3 separate regions of the Homo sapiens genome follow, and all the other regions are linked to region 1. Evidence: fine-mapped expression QTL. A gene starts in region 1. Each other region holds a variant in brackets. All regions are shown on one strand. Distances are between the middles of the regions. Region 1 holds the start of SDR42E1 (short chain dehydrogenase/reductase family 42E, member 1). Region 2 has its middle 41 kb from the start of SDR42E1. Region 3 overlaps SDR42E1 (short chain dehydrogenase/reductase family 42E, member 1).

The links. PIP is the estimated chance that this variant, and not a neighbour inherited with it, causes the effect.
Region 2: its variant is fine-mapped to the expression of SDR42E1 in blood mononuclear cells (TOPMed, PIP 0.94).
Region 3: its variant is fine-mapped to the expression of SDR42E1 in aorta (GTEx, PIP above 0.99). The same link has a PIP of 0.9 or more in esophagus muscle, sigmoid colon and whole blood.

Annotation. Positions count from the first base shown.
Region 1 is chr16:82,006,865-82,015,051 of GRCh38, reverse strand. SDR42E1 (short chain dehydrogenase/reductase family 42E, member 1) reads left to right here and starts at 3,582. Exons shown (of 3, transcript NM_145168.3): 1 at 3,582-3,665. It overlaps LOC112268169 (a long non-coding RNA gene), which reads right to left. Exons shown (of 2, transcript XR_002957879.2): 2 at 7,158-7,585. RefSeq lists enhancers at 3,238-3,317, 3,328-3,417 and a silencer at 3,658-3,807.
Region 2 is chr16:81,966,092-81,974,278 of GRCh38, reverse strand. No RefSeq gene overlaps it. Among named protein-coding and RNA genes, the nearest start is that of SDR42E1, 41 kb to the left of the region's middle. The variant A/G (reference allele first, on the strand shown) is at 3,868.
Region 3 is chr16:81,981,314-81,989,500 of GRCh38, reverse strand. SDR42E1 (short chain dehydrogenase/reductase family 42E, member 1) reads left to right here. Exons shown (of 3, transcript NM_145168.3): 3 at 1-646. Among named protein-coding and RNA genes, the nearest start is that of SDR42E1, 26 kb to the left of the region's middle. The variant T/C (reference allele first, on the strand shown) is at 3,632.

The DNA.
Region 1 (8,187 bases):
CCAAGAGATAAGGAGACAGGACTCTATGATGTCTGAGGCTCGACAACTAGATCCACCTTTTAAGCTTCCAGTTACAGGAGCCAAGCATCCCTACTTTTGATTTATCTATATTGGGATGGATTTCTATGATTTGCAACCCAAAGAAACCTGATGAACATAGTGGGTATCCTTACTTCTCAATTCCTGAAAACAGTGAGACAAGAAAATGGCAAATATAAGCTTTACTGTCTCAAAGGGTCCTTTGTGTCCTTCTAGGAGAGCCCCTAATGCTTCAGCACTGAACACAGAGCCCTTGCCAGGACACTCACAATAACATGTAGGTTTAGTCAGCACTATTTAAACACTTAGTTTAATCAGTACTGAGAGAGGCAAGGGTAACAATAATGAATTATTTCAAAAGTTTTTAATAGGAAAAAAGAAAAGCCATTGACCCAAATAGTATGCTTGATAATTCTTAATAAGTGCTATAAATGCTTCTAAAAGAATATTAAGTTGCTTAATTGCTGAATAAATGAAATATAAACATTATGTTACTTGGAGAGTTCTTTAATATGTAATGAGGAAAACCATTTTATGAAATGTACTGCATGTGATAAATGCTTGTTTTCTTTTCTAAAATCAATTATTGAAGCCATTAACCACTGTTTAAATATAGCTCAATTTTTTTCTGTCTATTCCCCTTTATATTTTTTTTATTAGTGAAAGAAAATAGGTTTATCTAGGAAAGACAGCTGCATGGTGAAATAGATGGAATGTGGAGGATATGGGAGTCAGAAGCCTTGGCTTTTTTTTTTTTTTTTTTTGAGACAGAGTCTCACTCTGTCGCCCAGGCTGGAGTGCAGTGGCGTGATCTCGGCTCACTGCAAGCTCCATCTCCTGGGTTCACGCCATTCTCCTGCCTCAGCCTCCCAAGTAGCTGGGACTACAGGTGCCCACCACCTCACCCAGCTAATTTTTTGTATGTTTAGTAGAGACAGGGTTTCACTGTGTTAGCCAGGATGGTCTTGATCTCCCGACCTCGTGATCCGCCCGCCTCAGCCTCCCAAAGTGCTGGGATTACAGGCGTGAGCCACCGCACCCGGCCAGAAGCCTTGGCTTTTAATCACAGGTCTGTCATTTACTAGTTCTGTGACCTTGGGTAAGTCACTTAAACTCACCTGATTTCCAGATGCAGTGTGGAACTATTACAAGGTTTCTCTTACCCACCTCAGAGAGTTGTAGTGCTACTACTACTAAGTCATAGCACTTTTAGGGCAGTGCTTATCAGCCTTTACTATACATAGGAATTACCTAGGGATTTTGCTGAATACAGATTTGTATTTATTAAGCCTAGAATGGGATCCAAGACCCAACATTTCTAATAAGCTCTCAGGTGATGTTGATGTTACTGATCCACACTTTTGGATAGCAAAGTTCTCATGTGCCTACCAAGCTCACAATAATTTCCGTTCTTTAGAAATGACCACAGTTTATAGCAGTTCTTGTGTCCTTTTGCCACAGCTGACAATGGTAGAGGTGATTTCTGATCCAAGCTGGGCCAAAAGAAGGTGTCGTTTGCAAGCCTGGGATTTTGAACAGGGACAACCAGAAATGTGACATATATTCATTTGCTGATTCATTCACCAGTAAAAAAAAAAAAAAAAAAAAAAAAAAAATTCTGTCTCTATGCCAGACACTATAGTAGGTAGTGGAGATACACCAATCAATCAAGCAGGTCTCTGCACTCACGGAGCTTTCATTATAGCAACATGCAAGATAATTTCAGATGAGCTAAGTGCTGTGAAGAGATTGAAGAATTTCAAGGGGATGCAGGAGACTTTAAGTGAAAGTGTTGGGGAAAGCCAAGCTCTTACTTCCTCTTCTGTAGTGACCTTGGCAGCCAAGAGTTGAACATGATGGCATAACAAATGGGGGAAGCCTGGGTCCCTGAGTGATTATGTGGAGCACAGCACTCTTCCCCTTCCCTGCAGACTGAATTGGACTGTGATCGGAGTGAGAAATAAAATACTGCACACCTGTGAGTAATTGTGACAGCAAACTGATCTTTCTGAGATGCATCCACTGCCTGGACATATTATTGGGGGAAGACAATACTAAACAAACACTGATATACAAACTCACATTGAAGTTAATTTCTTTCTCCAGTCATTTCTGTCTTAGATCTCTTGGTCAGACCTTTATAAAATCAACTCACTAAATTATGATGGAAGCTAAGGAAGCAATTATAGAGTTTGTAATTTTCCTTTAAAACACGCCTGATTATATTTTAAAAGAGTCCTCGGTGGCACAAGAATACTAACATTTAAATTCACCATTTCTCATGTTTATCCACACACTCTAAATCTGGGTATCCCTCAGAGGATCCTGTAATTCCCCAAAGGAAGTCTGTCTTCTTTACTGCATCCTCAGTGGGTCTTTTCTTCCTTAGCTGCTGGCCTCAAGAGCATATAGCTGGTCTCTCAGCCCCCTGAATACCCTTCCTCTTCTCTTCTAATTTTTATGTATCCTAAGCAGCCACTGCAAAGCTGTTCTTTAAGACTGCTTAGCACAAGAAGTCTCCTGTGACTTATGCCTGCCTAATAGGTGAGGACAAGACAGGCAGGAAAGCCAGAGCATCCTATGAGAGAGGCCAGTGCCAGGGACTGGCACTTCTTGATTTCTTCACCTGGGCTTCATTAATTTTTATATCCTAGGACTTGAGCTTTGTCCTTGTGACTGTGTGTGCTTAGTGAAAACTGAGCAGTAAATCAGGCAATTGATATGAACCTCTCTGAGTCTGCCTTTGGTACCAGATCTATCGGCAAGAGCACCACATGAAGTCAAAACTTCCATCCTCCAAGACACTAAAATGAAATCCTCCCCAGCCAGGGGTCCATTCCAGGATGCATGTCCATACACGTGTACAGTCTGCAACCATCCACAGAACCACACTCATGATGAGGAGACAAAAGATGGGCCTCAAAAGGAGACCTCTGAGTGAGGATGCCAACTTTCCTTTCTGCATTCCTTGGTTCCTTCAGCAACAAAGATTAGTCTTGGCATCACTGCCTGCTTGGCGACCAGAACAAAGAGAAATAAGGAAAATTAGGGACACAGGAAAACCTATGGGCACACATAGATATGGAAACTCAGAGATAATAGAAACTTAAAGAGATACATGGAGAGTGAATATTCTGCCTCCCTATAGAGCCTTTTCCATCATCCATCCACCCAAGCAATGCTGACCTGAGTGCCTATTTATCAGGCACTGGTCTTGGCCTTGGGGATAAACAAAGATGGAGGTGAAAGTCTAAAAGCAGACACTGGAGGTGGGAAGAGCAGTTGACGTGGCCCTAACAGGGTTCCCACCACGGCGGAACGCACAGACAGGGGACGTGGGGGAAGACGTGACCCTAAAAGGGTTCCCGCCACGGCGGAACGCACAGCCAGAGAACGTGGGGGAATTCATGAAGCGAACCTCCTGCTACCTCAACGCCGGTGAAGGTGAAGGAGACACCTGCGCGTCATAGAGACTCCGAGACCTCCAGGCTTCCTAGAGAGGCCCGGAAGTGGCTCCAGGAGGCAGGTCCGACGGCTTCGGCGCCCCAGCTGTGGTGATGGGTAGCTAGGAGGCCTGGGCCTCTCTGCCTGCTGTAGCCGTCTGCCGCGCCCTTGTTCCTGCAGCTGTGAGTGGGCCTGGGCTGGGGTTGGGGGGCCGCCGCCCTTCCGCGGGGACCCTGGACCGCCTCGGCCTGGAACGCGACAGGTGGCGGTCCCGGGGGTGGGGGACGGTGGTGAATGACTGAGCAGGGTGGCGGGAAGGAGTATCCCCTTTCAGATGTCTTCCTGATCCCAGGGGACCGGGCGCAGCTTGGCTTTCTAGAATGTCGCCAAGGCCTCAAACACTGGCCCTCCGCATTTTTTGTTTTTAAGGACATCGGGGCCCCAAGCTCCGAACTTTCCACAGGTGGCTGGCTATACTTGATTCCTGTCTTTGATTTTCTGCACACTTTGGGAGAACGATTACCTCCTCTTTATCACTTGGTTCTGGTTTGCCACTTAAAAGTGGCAGTGACAGGTTCCCATTTAAACTGCATGTATTTGTTGGGAAAAGGTAAGTAGGTTTAAACAAAACCTTATAGGCTAGTCATAATACCAGATGAATCAGATGTGACAGAAATTGTGGAGGTGGAGTGAGCCCTGAAAATCTGAGACGGGTCTCAGTTCATTTAGAAAGTTTATTTTGCCAAGGTTGAAGACATGTACCCATGACACAGCCTCAGGCGGTCCTGACGATGTATTCTTAATGTGGTCAGAGCCCAGTTTCGTTTTCTACATTTTAGGGAGACATGAGACAAGAACAGATGTAAGATGAACATGTTTTTCGGTCTGGAAAGGCGGGACAACTCGAAACGGGGAGGGGGCTTCCAGGTCATAGGTAGGTAAGAGACAAATGGTTGCATTATTTTGAGTTTGATTAGCCTCTCCAAAGGAAGCAATCAGATATGCCTTTATTTTAGTGAGCAGAGATACATGAATAGAATGGGAGGCAGGTTTGCCCTAAGCAGTTCTCAGCTTGACTTTTCCCTTTAGCTTAGTGATCTTGGGACCCCAAGATTTATTTTCCTTTCACAGTGATAAGATAATGACCTAAGCGAATCTGTATTGTCCCAGCCTTATTGTGCGGCATTACATGTAGTGGTTAAGAGTCATACAGACCCGGCTTCAAGTCCTGAACCCTGCCCAACCCCTTATGACCTGCATAATTTGTGGGCAAGGTTCCTAACCTCTGATCTATTTTCCTCATTTCTGAAAGCTGATGATAATACTAGTAACAACTTCGGAAGATTGTCCTGAGGCTTAAATGCTAAACCTTTAAACTACCTGTATTAATCCATTCTCATGCTGCTAATAAAAACATACCCAAGACTGGGTAATTTATAAAGTTAAGAGGTTTGATGGACTCACAGTTCCACATGGCTGGGGAAGCCTCATAATCATGCCAGAAGGCAAAAGAGGAGCAAAGTCACATCTTACGTCTTATATGGTGGCAGGCAAGAGAGCTTGTGTAGGGGAACTCCCCTTTATAAAACCATCAGATCTTTTGAGACTTATTCACTATCAAGAGAACGGCATGGGAAAAACCCACCCCTGTGATTCAGTTACCTCCCACTGGGTCCCTCCCAGGACACGTGGTAATTATGGGATCTACAATTCAAGGTGAGATTTGGGTGGAGACACAGCCAAACCATATCATTCCGCCCCTGGCCCCTCCCAAATCTCATGCCCTCACATTTCAAAACCAATCATGCCTTCCCAACAGTCCCACAAAGTCTTAACTCATTTTAGCATTAACTCAAAAGTCCACACTCCAAAGTCTCATCTGAGGCAAGGCAAGCCCCTTCCACCTATAAGCCTGTAAAATCAAAAGCAAGTTAGTTACTTCCTAGATACAATGGGGGTACAGGTATTGGGTAAGTATACTCATTCCAAAAAGGAGAAATTGGCCACAACGAAGGGGCTACAGGCCCCATGCAAGTCTAAAATCCAGCGGGGCAGTCACATCTTGAAACTCCAAAATGACCTCCTTTGACTCCGTGTCCCATATCCAGGTCATACTGATGCAAGAGGTGGTTTCCCATAGTCTTGGGCAGCTCCACCCTTGTGGTTTTGCAGGGTACAGCCCCACTTTTGGCTGCTTCCAGGGCTGGCGTTTAGTGTCTGCTGCTTTTCTAGGTGTACGGTGCAAGCTGTTGGTGGATCTACCATTCTGGGGTCTGGAGGATGGTAGCTCTCTTCTCACAGCTCCACTAGGCAGTGTCCCAGTGGGGACGCTGTGGGGTGGTTCCAACCCCACATTTCCCTTCCATGCTGCTCTAGCAGTGGTTCTCCATGAGGGCCCCACCCCTGCAGCCAACTTCTGCCTGGACATCCAGGAGTTTCCATACATCCTCTGAAACCTAGGGAGAGGTTTCCAAACCTCAGTTCTTGACTTCTGTGTACCCACAGGCTTAACACCGCATGGAAGTTTCCAAGGCTTGGGGCTTGCACCCTCTGAAGCCCCAGTTTGAGCTGTACCTTGGCCCGTTTTAGCCACAGCTGGAGCAGCTGGGACGCAGAGCACCAAGTCCCTAGGCTGCATAGAGCAGGGGGACCCTGGACCCAGCCCAGGAAACCATTTTTGCCTCCTAGACTTCTGGGCCTTTGGTAGGAGGGGCTGCCAAGAAGGTCTCTGACATGCCCTGGAGACATTTTCCCCATTGTCTTGATGATTAGCATTTGGCTCCTTGTTACTTATGCAAATTTCTGCAGCCAGCTTGAATTTCTCCCCAGAAAATGGGTTTTTCTTTTCTTTTGTATCATTAGGCTGCAAATTTTTCAAACCTACACTCTGCTTCCTCTTGAATGCTTTGCAGCTTAGAAATTTCTTACCCCAGATACCCTAAATCATCTCTCTGAAGCTCTGACTTACACAGATCTCTAGGGCAAGGACAAAATGCCATCAGTCTCTTTGCTAAAACATAACGAGTCACTTTTGCTCCAGTTCCCAACAAGTTCCTCATCTCTGAGACCACCTCAGCCTGGACTTTATTGTCTATATCACTGTCAGCATTTTGGTGAAAGCCATTCAACAAGTCTCTAGGAAGTTCCAAACTTTCCCACATCTTCCTGTCTTCTTCTGAGCCCTCCAAACTGTTGCAGGCTTTGCCTGTAAACCAGTTCCAAAGTCACTTCCACATTTTCAGATATCTTTACAGTAGCACCCCACTACCCAGTGCCAATTTACTGTATTAGTCCATTCTCATACTGCTAATAAAGACATTCCCAAGACTGGGTAATTTATAATGGAAAGTAGTTTAATGGACTCACAGTTCCACGTGGCTGGGGAGGCCTCATAATCATGGCAGAAGGCAAAGGAAGAGCAAAGTCACGTCTTACATGGTGGCTGGCAAGAGAGTTTGTGTAGGGGAATTTTCTTTTATAAAATCATCAGATGTTGTGGGACTTACTATCATGAGAATAGCACAGGAAAGACCCGCCCCCATGATTCAATTACCTCCTACCGGGTCCCTCCAGGACACGTGGGATTTACGGGAGCTACAATTCAACAAGAGGCTTGGGTGGAGACACGGCCAAACCATATCACTGCCTAACCCATAATAAATAATAAGTGTAGCCATGGTTGTTGCTGTTTTTATTTTAGGGCGGAGGAAACAGAGGTTCAGTGAATTGCCTAGGGTAACACAGGGAATTGGTGGAAGAGCCAAGTCTAATGCCCAGATTTCCAAACTGGGAGTCTTAACCCTTCATCAGTGCTACCTGTGCCACATGGGAGAAGATGGGCCACCTCCAATTCATTTTCTCTGGGAACTGCAGGAACCACAATGAGGTTGCAGAATGTGTTAACAGTGAAAGCCCTCACAGGACTCAGGTCAGTACCAAGCACTTCAGGTAGGGGCTCTGCACAGCCTCGAGTGCTGCTGCGTTAAGATGAACTGTAGAGTCAGATGCACCTGGGTTATTGGTACAGATCCCTGCTCTACCATTTGCTAGCTGTAGGACTTGGAGTTAGGCACTTTGTGTCTCTGAGCTTCAGTTTTCTCACCTGTAAAATGGAATTAACAAATTAGTACTCATCTGAGAGGGTTGTGAAATAATTCACAGACAGAGTGTTGCACAATGCCTGGCAGAGAGTAAGTGCTTAATAAGTGGCAGTTGATATTACTTCAATTACTAGATATTAATTCAATTACTTGGTATTACTTCAATTTATAGACGTGGCAAACTGCTGACCTAGTGAAGAAGAAAGTACAAGTGTAGTACTCCTTGCAGATAGGACAGAAAGAGGCATTTGAAGAGCTTGCAAAATGTTCACCCCATTTATATTTACTGGGTCTACAATCTGCTAGATATTCCTTGTCCCTATAGATATTGCCAGTCTGTACTCACATGGCATTTATACTGTAGCTTGGGAAACAGATGGGAAATACCAGTTACAAAATTATTTCATTTCTTTGTCATCAGCATTGTGAGGAATTGCAAGGCACTTGTGCCACAAGTATCTAGGCAGAAGTTTAGGTAGCCGAACAAGATTTGAAACACCTCAGGTGATGACCCTGAATTATAGACAGCTGTCCTGCTACCTAGTTATATTCAAAACCCTGCATAAATACCCATATCTATTACGAGTATACTGGTTTTCACTTA
Region 2 (8,187 bases), 41 kb after region 1:
GCTGACTCTTCTAATTCTTGTAATTATTTTCATGTGGGTAGGATTTCTTTTCTTTTTCTTTCTCTATAATATTACCGGTTTTTTCTTCTTTCCCTTTCCCTTCCCCACACCACCCCCGCTACTGCCCCCAGGAGTTGTGACTGTAGAGAATGTGGGTAGGGTCTTTTGGCTTTGCTTCTATAACCCTATGCACTACTTTTGGCAGGTTTTGTATTAGGCTTTGTGGTTTGACTTACAAACCAGTAGAGGGTACTTAAGGGTAAGAGGCAGCTGCAGCCAACATGCTGGGTATATACTTGCCCTTTGTTTACTACTAGAAGCTCGCCGTTGCCTCAGGAAATGGGCTGATGCATGGAATGCACAGTCCTCTGAGCTTCCTGCTTAGCCCCAGGAAGAGGGGGGCATGATGGGCAGGACCAGACCAGGTAGGCCTACCTACAGGTCCCCCAGTGGCAGGCACAAGCACCAGTGCTGAGGGAGAATCCAGTGGGCAGCCACCAGATACCCAGAGGTGGGCCTAGGCATGGAGCTGGAAAACCTCCTCAGCCCCAAGTTATCTGTACAGATCAGGGGTCAGCCTAAATTCCTAATTCAGGAGAGTGGGTGCTTCAGCTGCCTAGAGATATGCCTGGGCATGGGACAGAGAGGTCCTCGCTTTACCATCGTCTCTACACAGGAAGGGTGGGCTGGCTCAGACTACTCATTCAGGCAAGGAGGTGCTCTGAATGCCTGGACATCTGCCTGGGCATGGAGCGGAGAGGGCCCTGTTTCACCACAATTTCTGCAGAGGAAGAGTGGGGCAACTCCGGCTGCTGATCCAGGTCAGTGGAGATCTGCCTGGGTGTCAACCAGAGAAGGCCCTGGGGCACTACAATCTTTTTATGAACTAGACATCATCACAGGGGCTGTTTGCCTGTGTTCTTCTACCCAGGATCTGAGGTTTTCTTTACAATTCTAGTGGATTCCAATTTTCCTTCTCCAATTAAAGCTCAGAGAGTTTAGGCACTACTTTGCTATTTCCAAGTGGCTGAGGCATGTTAAAAACCTCTAATCCACCACCTTGGAAAAAAAAAAAACACTAATTCACTAAAAGCTTTTATGTGGCATATGTGTTTCATATTATCAATTTCCTTATGGAAAAGCATAATCTATTAATGTAGAGAACTGCATTGATAGGTTTTCCAATATTAAACCATTACTGGATTCCTGAGATTAACTCTACGTTATGAACAAGTGAACATTGGTTTGCAAATATTTTTCAGGATTTCTACTCTATTTAACAGTGAGATTGGCATCATCCTCCCTCCCTTTCTCTCTGTTCCTTTCACTTTTCTTGATTTTCCCTCTCTTCCTTGATTGTCCTCTACCCTCCTAAAATGAGCTTAGGAGGTCTCTTTTTTTTGGTCTGTCACCTTATAATTTTTATTCAATAAAAATATATTCTGTAGTCAGGAATAGTGGTTCATGCCTGTAATCCCAGCACTTTGGGAGGCCAAGGCAGGAGATAGCTTGAGGCCAAGTTTGAAAACAGCCTGGGCAACATAGCAAGACCCCATCTCTACAGAAAATAAAAAATAAATTATCCAGGCATGTGGCTGCATGCCTTTAGTCCCAGGTATTTAGGTGGCTGAGGTGGGAGGATCATCTGAGCCTAGGCGTTCAAAGTTACAGTGAGTTGTGACCCTAACATTGCACCCCAGCCAGGGTGACATGAGCAAGACCCTGACTCAGAAAGCTTTCACGTGTGTGTGTGTGTGTGTGTGTGTGTGTGTGTGTGTGTGTGTGTTCGTGTGTTCCTTCTCTTTTGGGAACAGAAAGCCCAGACACAGATCATTGAAATTATCCAGCCAGAGGAGCAAAAACAGGAAGAAGAAGAGAAGTGGGGGGAGGGGGAAGAAGGGAGAGGTAAGAGGAGGGGGAAGGAGAGGAAGAGGAAGATGAGGGAAGGAGAAGGAAGGAAGAACAGAAGGAAGGAAGAGGAAGAGAAAAAAGCCTCACAGACTTATAGGACACCATAAGCAGACCAAAATACTCATTATGTTAGTTCCAAAAGTAGAAGAGATAAAGAGACAGAAAGCTTCTTTAAATAAATAATGTCCAAAAACTTGTCAAATCTCTGAAAGAAAATGGACCCAAAGGGAATAAACTCAAAGAAGTCCATATTGAGACATCAGTTGTCAAAAGTCAGAATTTTGAGAGCAACAAAAGGGACTAATTACATACAAGGGAACTCCCATAAGAATCAGTGAATTTCTCAGCAGAAACCTTGCAGGCCAGAAAAGAATGGGACAGTATATTGGGAGTGCTGAAAGGAGGGGGAGAAAAGGTTGTTCAAGAATACTGTATCTGGCAAACTGTCCTTTAAAAGCAAAGGAGAAATAAAGACTTTTTCAGATAAAATTTGAAGAAGTTCATCACCGCTAGGCCTGAATAACAACAAATACTAAAGTTCTTGAAGTTTAAACAGACTCTAAGCAGCCATACAAAAGCATATGAAAGTATAAAGTTTGCTGGTAAAGGTAAGTATATAGCTAAACACAGAATACTATATTGTTAGTGTATACATCACTTTTAATTCTGGTACAGATGTTAAAAGCCAAAAGTATTTAAAAACTATGAAAATATGTAAGGGATACACAATATAAAAAGATAAAATTTATGACATAATTGACAAAGTTTGGAGGAAAGAGTAAAACTGTAGAGTTTTTCAATGTGATTACAGTTGTTATCAGCTTAAAACAGATTGTTACAACTATAAAATGTTTCATGTAAGCCCTATGTTAGCTACAAAAATTACAAAAAATCAACAAAGGAAGACAGTGAAAGAAGAAAAGGGACAAAAGAGCTGCAAGACAGACAGAAAATTATTAACAAAATGGCAATAGTTAGTCCTTTCCTATCAATAATTAAATGTAAATGTATTAAACTGCCCAGTCAAAAGACACAAAGTAGCTGAAGGATAACAAGATTCAACTAGATGCTGTATATAAGAGACTGACTTTAAGTTTAATGACACACATATACTTAAAGTGATAGGATGGAGAAAGATACGCTAAGCTACTAAAAGAGGGGTGACCATACTTAAACAAAATAGACTTTAAGTCAAAAGCTGCTACAAGAGACAAAGAAGGACAGATAATGATTAATGGGTCAGTTCACCAAGAAGATATAATAATTGTAAATATGTATGTACCAAACATCAGAGCACTTAAATATATGAAACAAACATCGGCAGAACTGAAGGGAAAAACAGCATCGCAATAATAGTAGGAGATTTCAGTAATGAATAGAACATCTAGACACAGGATCAATAAGGAAACAGAGGGCTTGAAAAATACTATAAATCAAATGCACCTAATAGTCATATACAGAACATTCCACCCAACAGTAGCAGAATACACATTTTCTCAAGTGCACACAGAAATATTCTCCAGGACAGATCACAAAGCAAGTCTTAACAAACTTAAGAAGATTGAATTCTCAAATTTATTTCCAACTACAGTGAAATGAAACTAAAAATCAGTAGGAGAAGGAAAATCAGAAAACTCATAAATATATGGAAATTAAATAACACCTACTCTGGAACAACCAATGGGTCAAAGAAGATATAAAAAGGTAAATTATAAAATATCTTTAGACAAAACAAAAACATAACTCATGGAGAAAAAAGCAGTAGGAAGAGGAAAATTTGTGGTGATAAATTCCTACCTCCCAAAAGAAGAGCTCAAATAACCTAACTTCTATACCTCAAGGAATGAGAAACAAACAGACTAAGCCCAAAGATGGCAGAAGAAATGAAATAATAAAGATTAAGGTAGAAGTTATCAAAGTAGAGAATAGAAAATTAAGACTGAATCATAAAGAAAT[A/G]GAACATCTGAACAGACTTTTAGCTAGTAAGGAGATTCAATCAGTAATCAAAAACATCTCAAAAAAGGCCCAGGACCAGAAGATTTTGCTGATGAATTCTATTAAACATTTAAAGAACAATTAAGACGAATGCTTCTGAACTTTTAAAAAGTAGAAGAGGAACGAATACTTCCGAAGTCATTTTATGAGGCCAGCATTACCCCAGTGCCAAAGCCAAAAACAGACATTACAAGAAAAAAATAATGCAGACCAATATCCCAGATATAGATGCAAAATTCTTAACAAAATACAAGCAAACCACATTCAATAGCACATTAAAAGGACATACACCATGATGACTAAGTGGGATTTAGTCACTTATAAGAGACTGGAGAGTATCCCTAGGACATAAGAATGATTACAAATATGCAAATCAAAAATGTGATACACCACAGGAACAGAACAGAGGATAAAAATTACATGATCATATCAATAGAAACAAATTGCGTTTGGCAAAATTCAACACCCTTTTGTGATTAAAAAAACTTAGGAAACTAGGTGTATTAGTCCATTTTGTGTTGCTATAAAGAAATACTTGAGATTGGATAATTTATTTTGGCTTTCAGTTCTGTGGACTGTGAAGCATGGTGCCAGCATATGCTTCTGGTAAGGCCTCATGAAGCTTTTAGTCATGGTGGAAGAGAAGGGCAGCCAGTGTGTCATATGGCAAGGGAGGTAACAAGAGAAATGCCAGGCTCTTCTCAACAACCAGCTCTTAAATGAACTAAGAGTGAGAACTCACTCATTACTGTAGGGAGGGCACCAAGCCATTCATGAGGGATCTGCCCCCATGACCCAAACATCTCCCACTAGTCCCTACCTCCAACACTGGGAATCACATTTCAATATGAGATCTGGAAGGGATGACTATCCAAATCATATCACTAGGAATAACAAGGAAATTACCTCAACATAATAAAGGCCCATATATGAAAACACGACAGTTAACATATTCAAAGGTAAAAAACAAACTTTTCGTCTAAGATCAGGAAAGAGGTGAGGATGCTCACTCTCACCACTTCTATTCAGCATACTAGTGAAGGTTCTAGCCAGAGCAAGTAGACAAGAAAAAGAAATAAAAGGCACGCAAACTGGAAAGGAGGAAGAAAAATTATCTTTGTTCACAGATAACATGATTTTAGGTGTAGAAAATCCTATAGATTCCACCAAAGGGGAAAAAAACTGTTAGAACTAATAAATTCAGTAAAGTTACAGGATTCAAAGTCAGCATACTAAAATTAGTTATGTTTCTGTACACCAACTACAAGCAATCTGGAAAGGAAATTACAGCAATCGCATTTATAACAGCGTCAAAAAGAAAACACTTAGCAATAAACTTAACCAAGGAAATGAAAGACTTGTACACTGAAAACTATAAAATATTGCTGAAAGAAATTTAAAACACAAATAATGGAAAGACATCCTATGTTCATGAACTGGAAAACTTAATATTGTTAAAATGTCCATATTACCCAAAGTGATCTACAGATTCAATGTCATTCCTACCAAAATCCTAATGGCATTTTTTACAGAAATAGAAAACACAATCCTAAAATTCATATAGAACCACAAATGATCCCAAATAGCCAAAACAATCTTGAAAGAGAACAAAGGTTGAGGTCTCATACTTCCTAATTTCAAAACACACTTCAAAACTACAGTAATAAAATATTATGGTACTGGCAAAAGACAGACATATAGATCAATGGAACAGAATAGAGAGCCCAGAAATAACCCTATGCACCTAAGATCAACCGATCTTTGACAAAGCTTCCAAGAATACACAGTGGGGAAAGAATAGTCTCTTCAAAAAATGGTGTTGGGAAAACTGAAAATCCGCATGCAAAAGAATGAAATTGGTCTCTTAACTTATATGTGAAAATCAATTTAGAATTGATTAAAGACTTAAATATAAGACTTAAAGCCATAAAACTGCTAGAAGAAAACAGAAGAAAAGCTTCATGACATGGGTCTTAGCAGTGATTTCTTGGATATGACCTCAAAAGCTTGGGCAACAAAACAAAGGTAAGTAGAACTGTATCAAACTAAAAAGCTTCTGCACACAGCAAAGGAAATATTCAGGAGAGTAAAAAGGCAACCTCTGGATTGAGAGAAAATATTTGAAAACTGTACATCTGATAAGGAGTTAATATCAAAAACAAGGAATTCCTATAACTCAATAGCAAAAACCCACAATTTTTTAAATGGGCAAATGACTTAAATAGACATTTTTCCAAAGAAGACATACAAATGGTCAACAGGTATATGAAAAGATGTTCAACATCACTAATCTTCAAGAAAATGCAAATTGCCCAGGCGTGGTGGCTTACGCCTGTAATCCCAGCACTTTGGGAAGCCAAGGCAGGCAGATCACTTGAGGTCAGTAGTTTGAGACCAGCCTGACAGACATGGTGAAACTCCATGTCTACTAAAAATACAAAAAAATGAGCCGGGTATGGTGGTGTGCACCTGTAATCCCAGCTGCTTGGGAGGCTGAGTCAGGAGAATCTCTTGAACCTAGGAGGCAGAGGTTGCAGTGAGCCAAGATCTCAGCCCTGCACTTCAGCCTGAGCGACAGAGTGAGACTCTGTCTCAATAAAATAAAATTTAATTTAATTTAAAAAAAAAAGAAAATGTAAAAGCCACAGTGAAATATCACCTCACACCCTTTTAGGATGGACATTATTAGAAAAATATGTATATAACAAGTGTTGACGAAGATGTGGAGAAATAGGAAACCTTCTGCACTGTTGGTGGTAGAAGTGTAAAATGATGCAGGCATTATGCAAAGCAGTGTGGAGGTTCCTCAAAAATTAAAACAGAGGTACTATACGTTCTAGCAATCCCACTTCTGCATATTTAGCTAAAATAATCAAAATCAGGAACTGAAGGAGAGATTTGCACTCTCCAGTTCATCGTAGCATCATTCACGATAGTCAAGAGGTAGAAACAACTTAAAGTGTACATGGACAGATGAATGGACAAAGAACATGGGGTATAGGCATACGATGGAATATTATTCAGTCAGAAAACAGAAGGAAATCCTGTCAGATGCTACAACTTGCATCTTGAAGGACATTATACTAAGTAAAATACGCCAATCATAGAAAGACAAATACTGCGTAGTTCTACTTATGTAAAGCATCTGAAGCATTGAAACTCATCTAAGCATAAAGTAGAATGGTGGTTACCAGGAGCTGGGGGAAATGGGAAATTGCTGTTCAGTGTATATAATGCTTCACTCATGCAAGGTGAAAAAGTTCTAGAGACCTGTACCACTTTGTGCCTGTAGTTAACACTGTACTGTACTCTTTAAAAAACAGGGTAAATCTCATGTCATGTTGTTTTGGGTTTTTCTTTTGGCCACAGTAACAAAAAAAAAAAAAAAAAAAAAAAAAAAAAAACTTTCTCTGGAATGTTTGGTAGAAGTTGCCCATGAAATCATCTGAAATTGATGCCATGGGGTGGGAGGTGCATGTCTTTGTTTTTTCTATTTCTTGGATGATAATTGGATTAGTCTTATTTGTTTTTTCTATTTCTTGGATGATAATTGGAATAGTCATATTTTTAGTGATTCTTAGACATTTGGTCGTTTTTATTTTAATATAATATTACCTATTTTGTCTAGGCTTCCAAAAGTCTTACTATAAAATTATTTTTACTCCTGGTAGTGTTGATTTGTGCTGCTTTTTTTCCCCTTGACTTTTAAAAGAACCATTTTATCAATTTTAGTTTTGTTTTTTTGGATTTTCTTGTTTTTTACCCTCTTTAGAGTGTTTTCCCTAGCTTCTAAGTTAAAGCGTAGATCATTTATTGTCACTTTTTCTCATTTTACAATAAATGCATTTAAAATTCTAGTATTTTTTTTCTGGGCAGTTCTGTCCCTTTCCTGAAATACTTTTGTCCCTTCCCTAACATATTCCCTAAAAATATTTTAGAAATAGCTTTTAAACTTTGTGATCATAGGACTTTTGGGGAGCATCTTTTTGTTTGTGATTTTCATGTGGCGCCAAGTTTAATCTTGTATTAGAGCAATTAAAATTGTTTCCCGCTCTGTGGCTTGTTGTACAGTCAATATTTGTAAATGTCCTGTGTTTGAAGAAAATTTGTATTTTCTGGATCCAAAATTTACTCTGTGTTTGCAGAAGCCTAATGTACCTTTGATCAGGCTGGTGACTTGTGTTTTTCAGATTCTCCTTATCCTTGTTTTGTGCCTTCTTTATCTGTGCTGTTGTGAGAAAACACTCTGATCTCCATCTATAATTGTTAACTTGTTGATTT
Region 3 (8,187 bases), 26 kb after region 1:
ATTCAGAGTGCTTCTGTGTAACTTAGATTTAAAAGTAACTATACAAATAATGCATAGATGTATTTTTCTTATATAATGTTAAAATATTACGGATAAGGCCAAAGACCCCTTTTACTAATGTCCCCAAATTTCATATATGTATATATTTGTATAGAAAACAGGGCTGTGGTGTTCATGTCTTTCCCCATACTACTGTCTCCCACCTCACAGTTCCTTCTGCTACTACGGTTTCTCACTCAATAGTACAGCATGGTGATCTATTGATATTAGTATATATTCTTTATTTGCTGACATAGGAGGTCACCGGGTATATAAAGATGATAAGCATATGTCCTAGTTGGCCTAAGACAGTTCTGGTTTCATGCCTGTAGTCCCACCTTAATTTTTAATAGTGCTTCCTTTCACTCTCAGGTATGTCCCATTTTGTATAATAAATTGTACGATCACCCTATATATAAGACACATAGTTATATGAAGAATTAAGCATTTTTCATAACAGATGTATTAGAAGTTATTGTGAACTGATTTTGAGGGGAAAAAATCTCATTTTGTACTAGAATAGAATATAGTAGAAAATCCTGAATTCTGGGTATGTAGCAGTATTCTACCAACATTGAAATATTAATAAAAAATTACCTAAAGAAAATCTTATGTATAGTTTTTCAGTGCTTCTTTTGTGTATCCCTCAGCAAAATAGATTTACTGGTGGAAGAGTAGATGATCTGACACGCGGTCGTATGAAAGCAAACACTGGTTCGGTGGTTCACCGAACACTGGTAACTAGGAAAGACACAAAATAAAATATATCTGAACGAATTCCTCTACAGCACATGCAAAATAAAGCTAATATCAGTAGCAAACTATAATAAATTTGAATAAATTCCTCTGCAAGTAGCCATTGAACATGTAAAAGAATAAATATTTAGTCAATATTGGTACAAATTATGCAGCATAATACACTAGAAAGAATTCCAGTATCAACCTTGCGAAGGCAGCAAATTTAACTATATCACAGAACACTACAGTATTCAAGAAGCAAAAAGGAAAACATTTCGGTGAATTCAAATGGAACTTGATTTTCCAGTAAGTATAGCAACATCAGTCCAAAAGCATTTGTGAAATGCATCATATATGTTTTGCTTTTCATTTTCTCCAAACCTAAAAAGCCATCTAAAATGCCTGAGTATAGGTAATTCTCCTTATACTTAGCCGTCATTGTGTTAGTGATAGAGTCGATAACAGCCTCAAACAACCTCCTTCAATTGTCCTTCACAATGTTGTGGTTATTACTTCAGTAATTTTACTGCCTCAAACCTAGTAAACAAATAACATGGCTTTGCCTCGGCCAGCCCTATTAAGAACAGAGGTTAGGAACAGGTGGCACTGCCAGCTCCCACCCCTACCCCAGGCTGCCCAAGAAACCTGTCGTTCCCCAGCTGTTGATAGAGTCCTGTGTGCCACATCAGAACTTTCCTAACTTCTGCTGTCCACCTACCTCTGATTATGCTTCATGTACCTCCCCAACTTCCCTGCCAGTCTCCCAGGCATAGGCATGACTCATCTACCAGCAAAGGTGAAATCTGAGTTGGTAGATCTAACGCCTGGACTGCCTTTCCATTCCCCACCCTGGACACACATTCAGGGCACAACTGGCGCCAAGGAAGGAGGCTCAGTATGTGAGCTGGGTGGCGCCTGGCCTAGAGCTTGCCTTTGTAAGAACACTAGATGATTGCTACTTTCTCAAACAACGATGGCATAGAATATGTCTTATTTATGGCCATCAGATAAGGTAGATATACCTAGTTCTTAACAGCTGAACAGCATTCCATAGTGTAAATGTACCATGGTAGATTAAGGCATTTCCTTATTGGTGTTTATTCCGTTTGTTTCTAGCTTGCCACCTTATCAGACAGCACAGGCATGGATGCTCTTATATATATATATCTCCTTACATCCACGTTGAAATGAGCTGCTAGGATAGACATCCAGAAGTGGAATTAGAATTTTAATAGGGACTACTGTATCAGACATGCATTCAGCTGCGCATTTAAAAATTATTAACAGTGCCTTGAACAGTAGTTTGTTGTTTTCATGTAACAAGGGGTCCGGAAGTAGGCATACGTGGGATGACGCAGCTCAGTGGTAACATCAGGGACTGGCCCCATCTTTCGGCTCTGTTGGATCCTCATTCTAATGATTCTCACCGCGTGATTCTGAGAAGGTGGCTGCACCCTCAGGCATTATTACAGGCAAGAAGAAAAGGGAAGATAAACAAGGCCAAAGGGAAATGCCAGCTGGGTCTATTTCTTTTAAAAAGCCTTCCTGAAAGCCGACTCCAATTTCTTCTACTGGAAATGAGGGAGGAAGATGGGATTATAGGTGGGGCTTGAGTCAGCCATACTGTTCATCCGCTTCCAAAGTGGCTGTACAAATTTACCCTCCCACCAGAGTTCCTAGTGCCTCCATACCATTTCCAGAACTACCTTACATTTCCATATTTGCCAATCTCATGAGTTTTTTAATATCTCATTTTTTAAAACCTACCCTTTGTAATTACTACTCGAGAGCATCTTGCCAGGTATCTGTTAGACCTTGAGTTTCCTCTTATGTGAATTTCATAGTCATATTTTCCCCTACTTCTCTATTGGGTTGCTCATCATCTTTGCATGGATTTGTAGGATGTAAAAGACGTAACATCTTCTATCATGTAAATCATGGATAGTTTCTCTCTCCCCAACAGTTGCCTTTTAACTTAGTTTCAATTGTCTTTTTAATTATAGTAGTTTTAATTTTGTTGCTAAATTAATCATGGGGGGTTATATTTGTTTATGAAGGTCTTTCCCATTCTGAAGAAATAGATATTGTATGTTTTCTTTTAATAGCTTTAAAGTTTTATTTTTTACCTGTTTACCTTTATCTGGTATTTAGTTTTGTGCATGAGGTGAAGATCTAACCTGGTATTTTCTAAGTGAACAGTCAATTGTCTCAACATAATTTATTAATAATTATCTTTCTACTGAATTCAAATTCTCCCTATTCCCTCTCCTTCTCCTCAAGTTTATCTTTTACTGTGAAGATAACACAACTTCAGCTATTAAGGATTTATTAGGTCTTTTATATTTGCTAAGACATATCCCCACTCAATTTCATTTCATAATTGCAGGCTGTTTATATATACATTTTCCATATCCCTTTTAGAATCAGGTTTTATAGTTCTATGAAAATCTTGAGGGTATTTTTTCAACTGGGTTTGCTTTAATATTACAGTTAAATTTGGAGAGAATTGACATGTACAGTTTTGAGGCGTTGCCTTCATAAACATGGTATACGTCTCCATTTAGTTTTGTGTCCATTTATGAATCTCCATTTATGAATCTTCTGCAAATGATTTTTTTTTCTGAGACAGAGTATCGGAGTATCACTCTGTCGCCCAGGCTGGAGTGTGGTGGGGCAATGTCGGCTCACTGCAACCTCCACCTCCTGGGTTCAAGCGATTCTCCGGCCTCAGCCTCCCGAGTAGCTGGGACTACAGGCATACACCACCATGACCAGCTAATTTTTGTATTTTTAGTAGAGACAGCATTTAGCCATTTTGGCCAGGCTGGTCTCATACTCCTGACCTCCAGTGATC[T/C]GCCCACCTCGGCCTCCCAAAGTGCTGGGATTACAGGTGTGAGCAACCATGCCTAGCCAAGATTCTGCGTTTTCTATGTTAAGGTCTTGGATATCTTTTGTTAAGTTTATTCTAGGTAATTTAAGGTTATTATTTCTACTATTGTGAATATCTTTTTATTAGAATTATTCTAATGAGTTACTGATGATAAATGGAAGTATATTTGAATTTTATACATTGATTTTTATATCTAACTTGCCTTAATATATTGTTACTGGTTCTGCAAGTTAGCTCATTTTTCTTGAGGTTTCTAGGTAGATGGTTATAGCCATTCATAAATAATGACAATTTCATCTCCTTTCCAATTTTTATCTTAGTTCTTTTCTTGCTTATTGCTTTGGCCAGGATATCCTGTATAATATTAAATAATAGCAGTATAGTGGACAACCTTTGTTTATTCTAAGTGATGGTATTGTTTCCATATTTATCAAGCATGAAGTTCTGTGTAGGTAGGTTTCTGGTAGTTACCCTTCATCAAGTTGAGGCAGTATTCTTTACTTAGTTTGCTAAAAAAAAAATTTGTTTCTGGGTTTTTTTCTTTAATAATTTCAACTTTTATTTTAGATTCGGGGGTGCATGTACAGATTTGTTACATGAGTATATTGAATGATGCTTAGGTTTGGAATATGAATGATCCCATCATCGAGATAGCACAGGCCAGGTGCGTTGGTTCATGCCTGTAATCCCAGCGCTTTGGGAGGCTGAGGCAGGGGATCACATCAGGCCAAGAGTTCAAGACCAGCCTGGCCAACATGGCAAAACCCCTTCTCTACTAAAAATACAAAAATTAGCCGAGTGTGGTGGCACACATCTGTAATCCCAGCTACTCGGGAGGCTGAGGCATGAGAATCGCTTGAGCCCAGGAGGCAGAGGTTGGTTGCAGTGAGCCAAGATCGTGCCACTGCCCTCCAGCCTGGGTGACGGAGTGAGACTCTGTCTCAAAAAACAAAACAAAACAAAAACAGATAGCACAGTACTCAACAGTTAATTTTCCAACCCTTGCCCTCCTCTTACCCTCCCCACCTCTATTAGTCCTCAGTGTCTATTGTTGCCATCTTTATGTCCATGGGTATTCACTTATAACTCCCACCTATAAGTGAGAATGTGTGGTATTTGGTTTTCTGTTGCTGCATTAATTTGCTCAGGATTTTGGCCTAAGCTGCATCCGTGTTTCTTCAAGGGATGTGACTTTGTTCTTCTTATAGCTGTGTGGTACTCCACGTTGTATATGTACCACTTTTTTTTATCCAGTTCATGGTCGATTGGCATCTAGGTTGATTCCGTGTCTTTGCTATTGTGACTAGTGCTGCAGTGAACATACGAGTGCATGTGTCTTTATGGCAGAATGACTTACATTCCTTTGGGTACTTGCGCAGCGATGGAATTGCAGTCAAGTTGTAGTACTGTTTTAAGTTCTTTGAGAAATCTCCAAACTGCTTTACACAGTGGCTGAACTAATTTACATTCCCACCAAAAATATATAAGCATTCCCTTTTCTCCATAGCCTCACCAGCATCTGTTGTTTTGGGACTTTTTAATAATAGGTATTTTGACTGGTGTGAGATGGTATCTCATTATGGTTTTGGTTCGCATTTCTCTAATTAGTGATGTTCAGCATTTTTTCATGTTTGTATGCCACTCATATGTTTTCTTTTGAGAAATGTTTGTGCATGTCCTTTGCCCACTCATTTTAATGGGGTTGTGTTTTGCTCGTTGAACTGTTTAAGTTTCTTATAGATATTAGACCTTTGTTGGATGCATAGTTGGTGAATATTTTCTCCCACTCTGTAGATTGGTCTTTAATTGCTTCTGAGGACTTAGACGTAAATCTTTCCCATGCTGATGTCTAAAATCCTGTTTCCTAGGTTTTCTTCCAAGATTCTGGTAGTTTGATGTCTTACATTTTAGTAAGTCTTTAATCCATCTTGAATTAATTTTTTTATATGGTGAAAGATAGGGGGGGTCCAGTTCCATCCTTCTGCATATGGCTATCCAGGTATCCTAGCACCATTTATTGCATCTTTCCTCATTGCTTTTGTCAACATTGTTGAAGATCAGATGGCTGTAGGTGCACAGCTTTATTTCTGGGTTCTCTATTATGTTCACTTGGTCTGTGTGCCTTTTTTTGTACCAGTACCATGCTCTTTTGGTTACTGTAGTCTTAAAGTTTGAAGTTGAGTAACATGGTGCCTCTAGCTTTGTTCTTTTTGCTTAAGATTGCTTTGGCTATTCAGGCTCTCTTTGGGTTCCATACGAATTTTAGAATAGTTTTTTCTACTTCTGTGAAAAGTGATGTTGATAGTTTGATAGGAATACCAACGAATCTGCAGACTGCTTTGGGACGTGTGGCAGTTGTAATGATACTGATTCTTCCAACCTTTGAGCATGGAATGTTTGTCCATTTGTTTGTTTCATCTGTGATTTCTTTCAGCAGTGTTTTGTAGCACTCTTTGTAGAGATGTTTCAACTTATTGGTTATATGTATTCCTAGGTATTTCATTTTGTGTGTGTGGCTATTCTAAATGGGATTGCATTCTTGATTTGGCTCTCAGCTTGAACATTATTGGTGTATAGAAATGCTTCTGATTGTTGTACATTGATTTTGTATCCTGAAACTTTGCTGAAGTTGTTTATCCATTCCAGGAGCCTTTTGATGGAGTCTTTAGGGTTTTCTAGGTATAGAATCATATCATTCAGAAAGAGAGACTGACTTATTCTTTTCCTATTGGTATGCTTTTTATATTTTTTTATTGGGCCTGATTGCACTGACAGACTTCCAGTACTGTGTTTAATAGGAATGGTGAAAGTTGGCATCCTATGTTGTTCTAGTTCTCATGGTAAATGCTTCCAGCTTTCGCCCATTCAATATGATGTTAAAGCTGTGGGTTTGCCATCAATGGCTCTTATTCTTTTCAGGTGTGTTCCTTCTATGCCTAGTTTCTTGAGAGTTTTAACATGAAGGGATGTTGGATTTTCCCAAAGGCTCTTTCTACGTCTATTGGGATGGTATGATTTTTGTTTTTAGTTCTGTTTATGTGGTGAATCACATTTATTGATTTGCATATGTCAAACTAACCTTGCAGCCCAGGAGTAAAGCCTACTTGCTTATGGTGGATTAACTTTTGATGTGCTGCTGGATTCAGTTTGTTAGATGCAAAAATCCTCAATGAAATACTGTGTTCATTAGGGATGTTGGCCTGTAGGTTTTTTTCATTGTGTCTTTGCCAGGTTTTGGTATCAGGGTGCTAACTGGCTTCATAGAATGAGTTAGGAGTCCCTCCTCCTCAGTTTTTTGGGATAATCTCAGTAAAATAAGTACCAGTTCCTCTTTATATGTCTGGTAGAATTCAGCTGTGAATCCATTTGCTCCAGTGCTCTTTTTGGCTGATAGGATTTTTTTTTTCTTTTATTATTATACTTTAAGTTTTAGGGTACATGTGCACATTGTGCAGGTTAGTTACATATGTATACATGTGCCATGCTGGTGCGCTGCACCCACTAACTTGTCATCTAGCATTAGGTATATCTCCCAATGCTATCCCTCCCCCCTGCCCCCACCCCACAACAGTCCCCAGAGTGTGATGTTCCCCTTCCTGTGTCCATGTGATCTCATTGTTCAATTCCCATCTATGAGTGAGAATATGCGGTGTTTGGTTTTTTGTTCTTGCGATAGTTTACTGAGAATGATGATTTCCAATTTCATCCACGTCCCTACAAAGGACATGAACTCATCATTTTTTATGGCTGCATAGTATTCCATGGTGTATATGTGCCACATTTTCTTAATCCAGTCTATCATTGTTGGACATTTGGGTTGGTTCCAAGTCTTTGCTATTGTGAATAATGCTGCAATAAACATACATGTGCATGTGTCTTTATAGCAGCATGATTTATAGTCCTTTGGGTATATACCCAGTAATGGGATGGCTGGGTCAAATGGTATTTCTAGTTCTAGATCCCTGAGGAATCGCCACACTGACTTCCACAATGGTTGAACTAGTTTACAGTCCCACCAACAGTGTAAAAGTGTTCCTATTTCTCCACATCCTCTCCAGCACCTGTTGTTTCCTGACTTTTTAATGATTGCCATTCTAACTGGTGTGAGACGGTATCTCATTGTGGTTTTGATTTGCATTTCTCTGATGGCCACTGATGATGAGCATTTTTTCATGTGTTTTTTGGCTGCATAAATGTCTTCTTTTGAGTAGTGTCTGTTGATGTCCTTCGCCCACTTTTTGATGGGGTTGTTTTTTTCTTGTAAATTTGTTTGAGTTCATTGTAGATTCTGGATATTAGCCCTTTGTCAGATGAGTAGGTTGCGAAAATTTTCTCCCATTTTGTAGGTTGCCTGTTCACTCTAATGGTAGTTTCTTTTGCTGCGCAGAAGCTCTTTCGTTTAATTAGATCCCATTTGTCAATTTTGGCTTTTGTTGCCATTGTTTTTGGTGTTTTAGACATGAAGTCCTTGCCCATGCCTATGTCCTGAATGGTAATGCCTAGGTTTTCTTCTAGGGTTT